Homo sapiens: one gene and its partner. The protein of the gene in region 1 interacts with the protein of each later gene in a biochemical or structural test. Each region holds a gene or a part of one and is shown on either strand. Other genes may lie near its edges.

Region 1 (7,828 bases):
TTGCAGCTTGGCATCATATTTATGCAACTTTGTACCCAGCATTTTTTATTTCATATTTTGTTATGAATATTTTCCTATGAATAAGAGTTTTCAAAGTCAGGATTGTGTGTGTGTGTGTGTGTGTGTGTGTGTGTGTGTCAAGGTACCAAGGGACACACCCTTACCATAGACATTTAGGTTCCTTTTCATTTTCCACTATTATCAACAATTCTGCTGTAAATATTCTTGAATAAAAACTTGTGCTTTTAAAGTTTTTTCTACACACGTATTGAGTATATGTTTCTGGAGACCACTCTGTAAGTTTATAGGCTGACCTGTAAAAAGTGGTCACCTTTTTTTGGTCCCAAATTTACTCCTGTCATATGGCTCAGGCAGTCCTTGGTTCTGGAGGGTGGGATTTTAAGAAGAAATCTGCATTTTTCTCTCTCTCTCTCCTCCCTGAGTTTATAGACCTCCTTCATCCCCTCTCAGTCTGGTTTTAAAATTAATCATTCAGCAAGTATTACTGAATCTGAAGTGTGTGAGCTGAGGCAGGGACGGGAGGCAAAAGGAAAATAATCAGAAGGTCCAGTACGATAACAGCATTTATTGGCCATTTACTACACTGCGGGCACCAATCAGGCTAAGCAACCCCCACAGATTAGGTACCATTGTTATCCCCATTTAACAGATGGGAAAATTGAAGACCAAAGCATGAAGCCATTGGCCTAAGACTTCACCGCTAACAAATGGCAAAGTAGGAATTTAAACCCAGGCCTACTGACCCCTGAACCTGCACTCTAGACAGCCTCCTTACCCTCCTAGGCAGCGGGGATTAGGGCTGAGGGTAAAAACTTTGCAGACAGCCTGATCCAGATTCAAACACTCAGCCACGTGGCTATGTGAACTTGGGCAATTTCCCGAGGCTCTGTTTCATTCACCTTTGGTAAACCCTACCTCAAAGGGCTGTCCTGGGAATTAAATGAGATGATGGATGGGGAACATGCCAGGCCCAGCGCTGGAGCACAGAGGTTCTCGGTAGGTGACCATCCCTGTCCTCTCCTTGCTTCGCAAGCTCGCGGTCTAGTTGCCAAGTTGGAGATAAGAGTTCAGCGGAGAGCTCTGAGCTCTGCTGGAGCCAACGGGGAAGTCAGTGATCAGAGCATTTTTGCCGAGAAATGCAAATGTCTCCTTTGCTCCCTCTCAGCCTCTGCAACTAACCTCCTCTCCCATCTCCCCAAAAAGGAAAGGGGTGGCTTTTGTGCTTCAAAGCTGAGTGCTTGAAGCCCCTCTCGTTCCTGCTCCCCAGGAGGTAAGCAGTGGAGATGACAGGAAGTCACCAGGGGGGAGACCCTTTCTGGCATGTGGGCACAGAGAAATGTGGTGGAGGGCGCTCCTTTTTCTGCCCTTCAATGGTCCGGATGGGGGAGGGGGCTGGCTGTTGAGCAACTGCTCCGGAGACACTCCAGAAGCCGAGATGAACATATGCCTCTTTCTAACAATTGGCCTGGGAGCCATCCAATAGATGGAGGGCGGATCCACACCTCCCGGATCCGGAGCCTGCAGCGGAGAAGCTGCCGCTGTTGCCAGACCTGCTCCCGAGCCAAGCCGGGGCTGACGGGGAGGGTGGGTCAGGGGTTCAAATTAGTAACATGCAATTCGAAAGCCTAGAGTCGCTCATTCTCCACCACTTAGTTTTCGCAGAAACATTTTTTTTCATCCCAGGCAAACACCAAGAGAACTTGAGAGTGTATTTCACACGCGGTTTGCAGTAAGGCTTTAGGGTGCCGACAGATCCCGCCTTTTATCAGAGGGAGACTAGGCAGGGCCCACAATCTGGCAAGCAAAGTGAGAAAGTGCAGCGAAGATGTGTGGGGTGTGGATGCTACCGGGGTTTGTGTTGGGACAGGGTAAGTGAAAAGACTGGAGCTGTGCAAGGCAGCCTTGAGGGCTGGAGAATGGGTTTACCTGGCGACCAAGACACTCGCCCAAGCTTCCTCCAGATGCCGAGGAAGGGCCTTGATCCGTCTCTCCATTTGCTTCCCATCTTTGTGTCGGTAAGCCGGTCAGTCCGTCAACAAACAGAACTTTGTTAGAAGAGCAAATGCAGGGCACTTGGGGCTACTAAAAAAAGAAAAAGAAAAGAAAAAGAGAACTTCAGGTCTTCAAATCCAATTAAGAAGACAGAACACATACATAGTGAAAATGACTTCGTGACATTCCCTCCCCCCCTTTTTTAACATCAGGACCTTTTCTTAAAGAGTATGTTTTATAAACAGTGTAAACTGAGTCGCTGTTGCTGAAAGGCAGCAAAAAAAGAGCGGCGGGGCCGGGGCGGGGTGGGGGGGTGACAGAGGGGTAATCCCGATGGCCTCCCTGTAAGTGGTAAGGTGGGAATTTCTTGGCCACAAAGAATCCGAATTGAGGTGAAGGAGAAGACCCAGACCTCTTTCCAGTAAGGATTTGTAAGACAACATCTCTACCTAAGAAAGACGAACTCCAAATGCAAAACGTTATTCTTGCTAGACGGGAATGATTATGTAGTTACAATAAAACAACCTGACATCGTGGGAAGGCAGGAGGAATCTCCGCGAACCCTGGGGCAAGCTCTTCGTACCCCGTTGCCTACTGTTGGCTTTTCGGCGAGCCTAGTGAGCTGTACCTGGCCCCACGGTCCGGGAGAGTAGCATTTCTCCGGGTCGCATCCTGCCAGCCTCCTGCCCTGGATGACCACAGAACAGAAACCCTCGAACCCAACCCCAGCTCAGAACTTCTAGAAGAGCCACCGCTGCCATATAGGCCCCCCATGCGACTCTGCCCAGAATCTGGCGACTTTAAGAGGAAAAGGAGCCCCCAGCCTCAGCTCTTCAACGAATGAGATAGTACAGCCCCCCCAAAAGGCAGACAGGCTCCAAGACAGCCCTGCAGAAAACTAATGACCATTCCCCCGTCTCGTGTGCGCCCCGCTCTTCCAGGTCACTCCTTGAGCCCACAGCTCTCTCCCAAAACCCCTGAAGCCCGTTTTGGCCCCCGACTAGATTTAGGTCAGAAAACAGACACTAACGGCTCTCCTTTGCCTCAGTGAAATTACTAAGTGGAATTTATTGGGCAAGTCCACGCAGGGCGGTGGGGAGAGCCGGTGTCCCGGGCCCTGGCCCCCGACAGCTTTAGAAGCCGGGCACTGGCCAGGGCTCCGGGCGAGGGCTGCCCATAGCCCGGACTCGCCAGCCCCACCCCGGGAGCCTTGGCCGGTCCACAGGGCTGCCGGACTCGCGTGGCCGCGTGGACTCCGTTCCCCAGCCGGCCCTTTGCTTTCACACGATCCGCGGTGACTGCACCAGCTCGAGCGCCTTTAAAGGGCCACAGACGCCAGCCGCTGCTATAAAAATGTGCCCGGCGGCAAAGCTGCAGAAGGGGCACCGCTGAGCTGCCGAGAGGAAGCTCGCTCTGCCCGGCTGCCCTCTTGTAGTCCGCCGGCGAGGGGCAGTTCTCGGTGAGGAGGAAGAGAGCAGCGGACGGCACAGCACCCGCGCGGGCCCTCCGTGAGTATCCAGTTCAGATTTTGCCACCAACTCGCCCACGAGCCAGGACATGTGCTAATAATGCCCTAAGCCGGTTATAAAGACGTGGAAATTGAGGGGAGAAAAAAAAAGGGAAAAAAAGGGTCTGTCCTTCCTGGGATTCCTAGCCGAGGCCAGTCTGCTGCCGTGTGCGTGTGCGTCAGGGCTCTCCGGGCGGCAATGGGGGCTTGAGAGCCGGGTCCCCAGCGCCGGGAAGGGAGCGCGGTGGCCGCCACCGCCACCGCCCCGGAGTCCGGCGCCGAAGCTGCGGGCGGGCGGGCGGGCACCAGCTCGGTCAGGGGCTGCTTGGCGCGGCACTGTGCGGTGCAGCGGCGGCGCGGCGCGGTGCGGGCTTTTCCCAGGCGCCCCGGGGTCGGGTGGCCAACGGCGCGGCCGCGGGCGCTGAGCGCGACCGGTTCGCGGTAGCGGTGGCGGCGGCGTGCGTGCCAGGGGCTGGGGGCTCCGCCGCCTCTCTTGCGGCTCACCGAGCTCCGCGCTTCCCTCTCTCCAGGGCAGGCGGCTTCTCAGAGGTAAGCCGGGCCGCCGGGCTGGGCGCCGGGCTGGGCGGCGGGGCCGAGGACTCCCGTGGAGCGGGTATGGGGAGTGGGCGGCCGCCAGGCGGGCCGGAGGGTTCTGGGGAGACTTGCTTTCTGTTGGAAAGCTGCTCTGCTGGGGGCGAGGGGCCGCCCGCCCGCCCGCCCGCCAGCGCTCGGGTTCGCTTGCCAGCGCGCCCCCCTGCCGGCCAGCGGGGCCGGGTGCCCGCTTCTCCCGGGGAGACGGCAGCACCTTTTCTCCCTGCGCCCGCGCTTTCTCCAGCTTGGCTTCCACCGACTTTGCTAATCTCCCGGACCGCATCTGGACGCTCTGGCTCCGGAGCTGCACAAAGCTCAGATTTACTTCGGGGAATTGAGGCAAGAGGGGGCTTTTCGGGCCGAGTTCAGCGGAATTGCGGGATGGAAGTTAGCGAATTTGGGCAACTTGCCTCTACTGCCCAGTCGACCTCAGCCCTCCCCTCCCCCGACACACGCCCACACACACACACCCACGCGCACACCCCTCTCCCTATAAACGCGGGCTGGCGAGCCGCGCGCCGAGTCCCTGCTTCGCAGAGCACCGGACTTGGAGTCAGAGAGACCTGGCTGCGAATCCCGGCTCCGCCACTTTCTAGCGCTGTGACCTTGGGCAAGTTACCGCACCTCTCCGAGCCTCTCTCACTCTTCTCCTAGCGGGGTTTTAGCACTGACCGCAGGCGGCTTGGCTAGGGGGTAGGCTCAGCCTGCTGCCGCGTCGGATGCTCAGCGGGCGCTCAGTAAGTGTTGATCAGGCGCGAGAGTGGCAGCAGCCGGCGCCGGAGTGCGGACTCGCCGCGGAGGCCGACACCCCGTGCCCCTTCCTGCCTGTCCATCCTGTCTCTAAGATCAGTTCCTGATACAGCACTTGCGGGAACGGACGCTCAGGGCCCCGGTGGCCTGGGTGCACGCGCCCGCCGTGCAAGGGATGCTCCCGGCCGCCCCCGGTTCCGCGGCTCCATCTGGGATGCGGCGAGGAGGGCAGCCGAGCTGTCCGCAAACAACGGGCCTTTAGTTTTCAGGTGGCGAAACTGACTGGTCTGGTTAGAGCGCGTCCAAGCCAAGCCGCAGTGCTGTTTGGATTTTTAAATTTCTCCTTCTGAGTGAGAAAATAGCAATCGAGATGGAACCATCCGGTTGGTGCCATTTTAACTTTTGGTCCCCCAACAGGTTAAAGATGAGGCCCCCACCTGCCTCTCCCTTCTCTTTTCCCTCTCCCCTTCCCACCCCTGTCTAGGCGGGAGGGGGCTGCTCGCCCAAGGGAAGGCCTGAAGCGAAGAGCGGGCAGCGGGACTGGGAACTGGTGGCCGGGGGGCCGCCAGGCATCAGCCGGCGAGAAGGCACTTGTTGCTCTAGGTTTCCCAGCCGCCTGTCGCAGCCGTTTCGCAGTGGTCAGCTCGCGGCTTGGAGAGCGGGCTGGGACGTTTCCGCGTTGCCAAGTTTTGCCCACGAACGGGCTAGAGGGTGGTGGAGGAGGGCAGAAAGCCGGGGAAGCAGAGCCAGGGATGCCGATGGAAATGCGATTGCTTCTTCAGACGCATTCAACAACACTTACTGAGCGCCTATTGAGCGCAGACCCAGGCTGGGGTCAGGGTGGGTGGTGGGTCAGTAATGGAAGGCAGAAGATCTGAATGGACACAGGGCCTCTTCTGGGGGAGCTCCCAGATTGAAGAGGGAGGCGCGGTAAAATGGTCTTCCCCCACGAACTGATATCAGAATAGAGAGAGTTTTTTTGCTCGTTCTCTCTTTTGATTTTTCTAATGTTTCTCTTTTGGTTTTGCTGTTGTTGCTGCTGCTCCTGTTGTTTTTTCTTCGTTTTGTACATTCGGGTACCAAGCGGCAAAAAGGAGAGGGAAGGCTGGATAGGAACAGGAAAAGATGGACAGGGCCCCCAGACATTTTTCTTAGGACAGGAAAATTGTCTGATACTGATTGTGCTAGGGCTCTTGAAGACGACATGTGTTAGACTTCTTGTCTGGTGATCACTTGCTTTTGAAATATTTTTCTACGGTTGCCTCAGAGAAGGAGCAGGGCTTCAATCAAGCAATGATGCGGGACCCAACAGCTGATATTTTTTCCTCATGTTTTTAAAAAAATGTTTACCCCTTTCTCTATTTTTTCCCTCCCCTACCCCCATCCACCCAAGTAAGCAATGCAAAGATGATACAGAGAGGTAGTAAGTGGCCACTTTCTAGAAGTGTCTGAGCAGATTCTTAATGACCGCTGCGGAGTGGAGAGTGTCACGGAGAATTCTAGCCTCCTTGGAAAGATTAGAGACTCTTTTTAAGGTCCTCAAGATTCTTTGGACCAAGAGGTATTTATAAATATGAAATTCTACATCTCTAATTGATCATGAAAGCTAGAATATATGGGGCTTTTTTTTTTTAAAGAGATAGGGTCCCGCTATGTTGCCCAGCCTGGTATCAAACTCCAGGGCTCAGGTGATCCTCCCACCTCAGCTTCCTGAGTAGCTGAGACTACAGGAGGGTGCTACTGTGCCTAGCTATGGGACATTTTTTTCTTCTTTGTAAACAGGCCTCCAGGAAAATAAGTTGAGATTTTCAGAGGTTTGTTTATTTTCTGGTTTGGAGGTATTCTTTTGCCTTCATTCCCTTATCCTTTGGCACTTGAGCCAGGAAATCACTTCTTTGGAAGCCTTTTGAATCCAGCTAGGTATGATGACTTAGCCAGTGGTCAGGTGAGGCATGTGGCCATAGGGGTGCTAGATTCTGCTCCCAGAACCGCTGCTACCTGACTAAAAAGGCATTGAATCTCTGTGCCTCACTTGTCACTATAGATGGGAATGGCTGGACTCAGGTTTCTGGGGTAGGCATCCTAGGAAAGCCCAATGCTGGGGCTGTCTTGGAGGGGGCTTGAGACATGGAGGAAAGTGACACATTCCTAGCTTCTCTGGCTCCAGCTGCCTCAGAGCCCCCAGACCACCCTAATCAGCCTGGCTTCTCACAGGCATGCCCAAGGTCATGCTTTGGAGCTCCATGACATTTGCGCTAGAGACTTGTTATTTCCCTGTGCTGCAGCCTCTAGCTTTCTAGGTCTTCCTTGCCCTGACTTCTTCTCACATTCTCCCAGTCCCAGTGGAGGCCCCAACTCTCCAGCCTGGATGCTAGTAGCCCATTGAGACAATATGTTGCTTACTCAGGGACATTCCTGTCCTCTGAACCAGGAACAGTGCCACCCTCACCCCCACACATACACCTTGGGACTGTGAAGTCACTTGCATGAGGAAGCAGTATGTCCCATCTTGGTGATATGGGTAGGTGGCTGCCTGGGCAGTACCTGGCCGAATCAAGCACCTTTCCTGCCTCAGGCAAAAGTTCCAGCTTGATCTCCTCCCTGTGCTCGGGTGATCTCTGGTCTTGATTCTAACTCAGTCACCATCCTTGCCTCATAGCTGCGTGGCATTGCCCTGCTTTGGGCTTTGCTAGTGCTTTGTTGGTCAGTGAAGCCTTTTGCCCTTACCACTGCTTCTTCCTCACTTGCAGCACAACAGCTCCAGCTGGCAGCATCACTTCCCGCCAATTTATCCAACTTCTGCCAAGGCTCTGAAATGCCAACAACGTCGAGGCCTGCACTTGATGTCAAGGGTGGCACCTCACCTGCGAAGGAGGTAATTTTTGCCATTTTACAGATGAGGCAGGGAAAGACAAATTTTCCGGGGTCATGGGCCAGGCCCTCCTAGGTGCATTACCCAGTGTCCTT
Region 2 (7,746 bases), on another chromosome or scaffold:
AAAAGGTTTTCTGTTGCCCCTGGCTTTGCCTGGAAAGGATAAGTTTAGTGTATTTGAAGATTGATGGCGTATGTTTTAAATTGAGGTAAAAATCGCAAACTATGTGAGCACTAAACAGGAAAAGGCTGCACAGGAATGAAAAGCCTCCATCTCGCTTCTGTCCTTTAACAAATGAGCATAATCTTCCACATTTAGCAAAAGTCTGCAAAAGTCACTGTAAATAACCAGGCCCACCAATTTGCCTTTCTCTCGCCTCCAAATGATGAAGCAACCCTTTTTATTTTGTTTTTGTAATCCTCACACAAAGCACCCAAGGCGACCAAGTCCTCCGGATTAGGGAAGTCTCTCTCCAGGTAGGAGGACACCTCCATTCTATACAACCTCCCAGCACTGTTCTCCCTCACTGCCTTATCCAAAGGAGCAGGGGCTGCTTTACTCGTGTCCCCGGCACAGTTAATTGAAGTTCTGCCTCTTTCCTGCTAAACTTTTTCCCCAGTCTGCCTTTGCCAGCCCCCTCGTCTGATTACATCTAGTAATTCTCCACTGAATGAACGTCATTTACAATAGTAGGGGAGCTCTGCGCTCGCTGCTGCTTCACGCTCCATTTGTCCTCTATTCTCCCTTTAAAGTACTCGTGTAATATTAATAGTCATGAATATCAATTATTATGAGGCGGTGTAGGCAAGCGGAGGGAGGAAGGGGCGGCCGAGCAGTCTGAGCCCAGCTTCGGGTGAAAGAGGACTGCATCTGGAGCCCCGAAGAACGGCAGAAGAAAAGAGGCCAAAAAGACAGCAAAGAGACAGATGAATAGTTCTGTCTGTGTGTGACAGGCATCGCCAATCTTGTTGGGGTGGGGGGCGGGTGTAATTTTTTTTTTTTTTTTTTGATGGCTTGTCCTGGAAACACATCAAGCTCAGCTCCTGTGTCCAGCTCGCTTCTCTGCTGGACTCCTTGATTTTTTTTTTAATCATTGTTTGATTTTGAGCAGTAACCAGGCTTTTTTTTCCAGATGTTAGTCCACACCTATTCATCCATGGTGAGTTTGGATTCACGTGTTACCAGAATTGCATGCTCCCTCCTCTCACTGTCTCTCTGTCTCTGCGTCTCTGTGTGTGTGTGTGTCTCACACTCTCTGTCTCTCTCTGTCTTCCTTTGAGCGCCTTTGGCTTGGTAATTTAGCACCATAATTGGACGAGGCTGCAGCTGCTTCTCTCTGCATTGTGTGTTCTCCGTCTGAGCTCCATGAGTCAGCTGGGAGGGGAGAGGCCGAAAAGAAAAACTTTTTATTTGCCATTGCTGTTTGGAAATTTAGGTGACTATTTCTGCAAAAAGAACCATGGGGAGTTTACCATGATGTTTCCAGAGAAGAGAGGGAGAAACAAAGTCCACCTCCCTCATATACACACCTCCCCCTTCTTCTTTCACTTAGTTCACACTCCAGATAGGACCAGGAATAAGTTGTCTGGGCTTTTATTTCCCCCCACCCCAACTTTAGTTCCTTCATTTTCACATCCTGAGTATAACAGCATTAGATATAGAAAAACAGTCTTAGAAATAACTCCTATGAACCACAACTCAACTTAATTCATCATTGGCTTAGGATATGATTTCGAATGAGATCCATTTCAATGAAACACTATTTAAGTTATTTAATTTCTCCTGGAGAGGGAGGAGTGACTGGGAACTCAGACCAGGTGGATTCCTTGGAGCTCTTGGAATGATCAGGTTGTGTGGAAAGCTCCTCCTAATCAGCCAGCTGCATTTCCAGCGAAGGCAGAAGTTGGTTTTTAATCAGGGGGAGCAGCACAGCAAATACTATGAAGTTTTATTTGTTGTGATTTGTACCTCTGGAAGAGTTAGAAAAAAGTAGTTAAAAACACCCAGAGGAGCAAACACCATATGTAAGACTCCTACAATTTTAATTAAGGCATTTAGAATCTCCCTCCATACACACTGTTCCTGTACCCCTGCCTTTTGCCTGCTTTGCACTCCCCAAAAAGCGGCTAAAATGTTATAGTTAAGTGGGTGATTCCTTTCCCATTTTCTCCCCAAGCCTGGGGTTTGAAATTGCTGAAATCATGTGGCCCTCTGAGTCAACTTGGGGGTCTAAGTTTCAGATCCTTGCTTCCCTTGTCCCGGGAAGAGCGTACAAAAGCCGGGCTTCTCCATTTGTCACTTGTATTTTTTTTCTTCCTCTCTGTACTCTCTGTCTCTCTCTGCCTCTATCTCTCTTTCTCTGTCTCCTTCTCTGGCTCTCTTCCCCTTCCTCTCTCCGCTCCCAGGACCGGCACGATGGTGTCCCGAGCCACAGCTCGCGGCTCTCCCAGCTGGGCTCGGTGTCCCAAGGACCCTACTCGAGCGCCCCGCCGCTGTCCCACACCCCGTCGTCGGACTTCCAGCCGCCCTACTTCCCACCCCCCTACCAGCCGCTCCCCTACCACCAGAGCCAGGACCCCTACTCCCACGTCAACGACCCCTACTCCCTGAACCCACTGCACCAGCCCCAGCAACATCCCTGGGGGCAACGGCAGCGGCAAGAAGTGGGTTCGGAAGCCGGCTCTCTCCTGCCCCAGCCTCGGGCCGCCTTGCCCCAGCTCTCGGGCCTTGACCCCCGGAGGGACTACCACTCGGTCCGCCGGCCGGACGTGCTGCTGCATTCGGCGCACCACGGCCTGGACGCGGGCATGGGTGACAGCCTCTCGCTGCACGGCCTCGGCCATCCCGGAATGGAAGACGTCCAGGTAACCACAAACAAACAAACAAACAAACAAAAAAGACCACGAATAAGGAATGCTTCTGGAGGGGGGGAGGTCAGGAGAGGGCAGCTCTGTCTCTTTTTGGGGAGTTTGTTCCCATGTTTAGAACAGGACTAGACAGTCATATAGAACTGTTTATGTGTGTCTGTATGTATGGCTCTATAGTGGCGATTTCCAGAGGTCTAATTATGATCATCCAAACCACGAGAAATTAAATCTTGAAGAAGAAAAATATGTATTTGCTTTGATACCTTAAGATTATTAGAATAAAGGCGAATGCTTTTGTCCTGCCTCAGCTACCATCTCCTGCATATTCTCTAGTGCTTTGTGGAAGCCAGCTTGGTACCCCTTCTTTACCAACACACACACCCCATAGTGGGGCTGTCCTGCTGACTTGGCAGGTGAAGACCTGGCTGCCTAGAGGCTAGAGCTTCAGAATGAAGTTCCAGGGGCCTCTGTATGCTCCAGAGGTTGCTGCTGAATTTGCAAAGATTTTGCTAAGCATGACAATGAGCTCTGATCATCTAAGCCAGGTCTTGCTTTGAATGTCTCATAAGCCACAGAGCTTTTTTCCAAGAGATAGTTGCAGTCCTCATCTGAGAAATAGAATATATGTGAAGGAGAAACTCAGAACGCCATAATTCAGGAGTCCATGATGGTAGATACCATTTTGGAAATTCTTTTCACTTTTTGGTTCATTAAGTGACTGTAGTGTAATATTCTCCACCTCCCTCTCCTGGCCTCCGCCTATATTAACACTCTTCTCTCCCCACTGCCATCATCCCAGTTGAGAGGCATCACGTGTTTATTTCTTAAAACAAAAGGCTCAAAACACTCCCCCTACCCACCCACTATCCCATCTGCAGTCTACACAATGGAGCCTGATTTGGTTGAGAATACTTGGTTAAACTAAACAAAGAAACATCAAAGAAATGATTCCTAAAAACTGTTTGGGTGATTCTGAGCAGGTCTGCTTTTTCACCCTAAGTTAAATAGTTGGCAGAAAAGATAAATATAGTTTACAGGTATGTAATTGACACTTCAGTTTCATTGGCATAGTTGTATTTATTATGCATCCTTTGACATACCTCTGAAGCAAAGGAAAATAAAATGGGAAAGAGAAGAGGGTGCAAGAGTCATTCTTCTGTACCTTGCTGAAAAAAAATAGTTTTAAACAGTTAAAATGTGGTGACAGCATCAAATGCTGTCTGTGTGTGGTCTATGATTGTTTATTGTTTTAAAAGAAATTCAGTTATTTATTTTTTTAAAAAAGACGGAATTACCTGATTTGTGCCTGGATTTACTGATAGTAATAAGAGTGATGATGGTTTTGTTGATTTAACTGAGCTTGACTGTTCCTGGCTAGAGATATTGCTCATTTCTGAATATCATATGAAAAAGGAAGTATTTAATAGTTTTTTTTTTAATGCATTGGGGTAATATGTGTCTCGAGGGGAAAAGTTTTTAAATTAACCTTTCTGAGTATGGTTCAAAGTGCTGGATAATGAAAGTGGATCAACTCATCACCATTACTGTTGATGATGCTAATGCCGGCCCTGTTACCACCACCCTACAGGCCAAGTGACTCTAGCGAAGGAACTCAGAAATTTTTCCCCCAAAAGAAGGAGCAGTTTTCTTTAGTTAAATGTTTTTAAAGAAATAATTGAGAGAGGTCTTTTTGTGTTTGGTGAAATTCAAAGTCTGAGAGAAAAACAGGGCCAGATCAGTGCACATTTGGGAGAATAGTCTTGTCAAAGCGTCGGAAAGGATTTAGTGTTTATGTGAACGGAGCACCTCGGGGCCAAGTTGTTGCTGTCGGGAATACAGACCACAGAGGTAGAGAGCTGAAAGGAGAAAAGCAGCAGGCAGCACACCGGAGCCACTTGCAGGCTCTCCACTCACCCAACCCCCACCCTGTTCCTCCCCTGCTTTATCTCATTTCGTCACCTGCCGGGAGGCCCACGGGACCTTCTTGGGACGACCCCTATAGTGCAAGGGACACACCCTGCTCCTGTCCCTAGAGGGAAACAGCAAAGACAGGGACGGTCTCTGCCTCCGCGGTGATGACAGACCTCCCAAGGCCAGGGTGAAGTTGACTGATGCAGGGCAGGTGACAAAGACCAGGGGTTATGTTTCCAGGACCACAGCCTCGAATCCGAAGGCTTCCAATCATCTGCTCAACACAGAAGGATCCACTTCCGAGTTAGGAAGCTGGGGTGCGGGGGCTAAAGTTACACAAGCAGGTTGGGATTTCAACGCTCTCCCTACAGCTATCGAATGGGTGGCCTGCACTGGTCCAGTCTTTAAAAGGGCCTGCACTGGTCCAGTCTTTAAAAGGACCAGAGAGTGCCTAGGCCTGGACCTTAAAGTCACTTGTTCCGATCTCAAGGACCTCGTGTGTGTTCCAGATCCCCTTGAGCCAGGGAGCTGGCAGACACTGAGGGTGCTGCCCTGCCTATGGGTCGAGGGTTTTGTTGTGTGACCCAGATGCACCACACTCAGGGCCACAGCCCCCACCATGAGAGAAGAGAAAGAGGAGAGCTAATTCACCAAATGCTTCTAATATTTTTTTAAATGAAACTATAAAACCCTGTCAATTTCTATTTCAATTTACTCACAGGGGCTATTAAACTAGCAAATCGCTGTTTGGGTTCTGGGTATGCTACATTTCACCCATTGTGCATGAGCGCGCGCGCGCGCGCGCGCGTGTGTGTGTGTGTCTAGTTGGGGAGGGGGCTACAAGTGTTAAAAACTCAGGAAAACACCTACAGAGAGAGAGACAGAGGGAGTGAAAGGACACCTAGTTTGGGATTTGTTTAGTTGTCATGTACACCTCTTTTCTTCTTCCCACCTTTGCTCTCTTACCTCCCATCACCTCTACCACCCATGAATATAAACATATAAGGATGTTAAGCCAACTCCCCCCAAACACATACACACACTCAAACACACCCGAGTGTCTTAAAGCAACCCCTGGTATCACTTTTAACTAAAGAAGTCTAGTAATTACGAGTCTGAGTTGTTTTTCTGCGCTTCCGCATGCAGTCCTAATTAAATCTTTACGATCCTCCCTGTGACGATTAAGCGCCAGCATGCTGCGTGAATATCCTGTACAAAAACCCAGCAGGCGGCCGTAATTAGATAGAAAATCAGACAAGAGCCTTCTCATTAACTACCACAACTACCCCACGTCGCTGATGAGGCGTTTATACATATTTACGTACAAGAGTGAGGGTAAGGTGTGAGGGCTCCCGGGTCCAGGCCAGTGTAAGTCAGGGTCTGGCTGCCCAAGGCACAGGAGAATATTTCTGTCCTGCCTGGACACATTGTCACTGTATACACATGATCATAGAAAGGTGTGAATCGTGTGTGTTTGTGTGTGGCAGGGTCCCCTGAGGAGTTATGAACAAGTTACATGAAATATTTTTAAAACACCTTTTTACTATTTCCTAAGATGTGCATGGCATGTTGCAGCAAGGATAACAATTCCTATGGAGAATAACAATTTTGCTCACTTTTCTGAGAACAAAAGAGTGACTATTAAAAATGAAAAGAAACAAATTAACATGCCCCCTGTACGATTAGATCATCTCATTTCTAAAGTTTTGCTTGTTTGGGGTAGACAGTCTTTTTCTTGTGATGAACTCACACTGTGAGGATGCAGCATGAGTCGGTGTGAGTGCTGTGAAAACAGCTCCTCACTCTCAAGCCCTTTGCTTTTTACTTCTCTATAAAGTGGGTAACAATTTGGTCCCAACTTAGGTTTTGAAGGGTCAAGAAAGTAGTTGTAGATTTTAGAAAGACCTAGCATTTATTTTCTTGGTAGGGAGAGAAAGGGAATCTACTGCTTTTGGACGCCCTGGGATGCACAGCCAGAACTGTTCATGTGTATTCTGACAGTAAGAAACTTGCTCCAACAGCTATTTCCTCTCAGAAGTGCTACCAGTGCTCAGAGTTGAAACTTTCCTTCTCTGGAATGAAACTGTGGCACAGAAGATGAACATTCCTTGCGATTACCTAGGTGCTGACTGGGAGGATCTAGACCTTTGTGTGTGTCTGCTTGTCTGTAGTTACTGCCTTCCTAACAGGTGTGCTCCTTGCTGGGAAGCAGCATCAGCAGGACTGGGAGGGAGGGTAAATTGTGAAGGTTCCTCCAAGAGACTGTCATTGTGCAGCAAGAAGCTCATAGTTTACAGGAACGTGTATGGGCTGTAATGGGTGTGCAGTCCTAGAGGCTTGCAAACATGTTCCTATGTGTTGCTGTTTGCATTCCATTCCAAATTGCTCAGACTTTAATTAAAATCCCATAATGTAAACTATTATGTATTTGTAAAATGGCTCTGGGGTTAAGATGCACTGGGATAGAATGGAAAACACAAATTGCTCTTACTAATATTGGTGAAAATCTGTCAGCTGTTGCCAAATTTTTACAATTCATAAGAGCAAATAATATAAAGGTTTATCTGTCTAATATCTATGTTTTATATAATAACTAAACCAATGTTGCATCCCAGATGTCTCTCAAAGTTTTCTTTCTCCACTTCTTCCATTGGAAAAATTTATAATTTGAGTAAATTTCATTTCTATGTCTATTTGGAGGTAATAATAATAATAAAACAGCCCTTTGTGAATTAATATAAATGGAAATAACAGAAACTCCAGTTTGGAATAACATGATTTATGTGTGCAATTCTTTAATATCCTGTCAATTTGAATAGTGATGTTTTTATATTCACAGTCAGTTGAAGATGCCAATAACAGCGGCATGAATCTATTGGACCAGTCTGTCATTAAAAAAGGTATGGATAATTCCCCCCAAAAAGTAAGCAAAGTTCTCTCATGCATTAACGTCTTTATGATGAATTTTCACTTTGGGGGAATTCATTATTTGACAAGACATAAATGTTTGTTCACAATTATAGGACAATGGCTGTCAGATTAGGGGAAAGGGCATGTTGGGAAGATGGAAGTTGGGCAAGGGAGAATGAAA

The links.
Region 2: the proteins of CITED1 (region 1) and TFAP2B form a complex in vitro, tested with the Homo sapiens proteins (one study listed by BioGRID).

Annotation. Positions count from the first base shown.
Region 1 is NC_000023.11:72,302,718-72,310,545, reverse strand, and holds the start of CITED1 (cbp/p300-interacting transactivator 1), read left to right. Parts: upstream 1-4,631; 5' UTR 4,632-4,721; intron 4,722-5,123; exon of another isoform or gene 5,124-5,231; coding exon of another isoform or gene 5,232-5,244; intron 5,245-7,611; coding exon of another isoform or gene 7,612-7,676; coding exon 7,677-7,736; intron 7,737-7,828. UniProt on the Homo sapiens protein: Transcriptional coactivator of the p300/CBP-mediated transcription complex. Enhances SMAD-mediated transcription by strengthening the functional link between the DNA-binding SMAD transcription factors and the p300/CBP transcription coactivator complex.
Region 2 is NC_000006.12:50,821,125-50,828,870, forward strand, and holds part of TFAP2B (transcription factor AP-2-beta), read left to right. Parts: intron 1-307; coding exon of another isoform or gene 308-353; intron 354-1,009; coding exon of another isoform or gene 1,010-1,036; intron 1,037-2,282; coding exon 2,283-2,741; intron 2,742-7,494; coding exon 7,495-7,555; intron 7,556-7,746.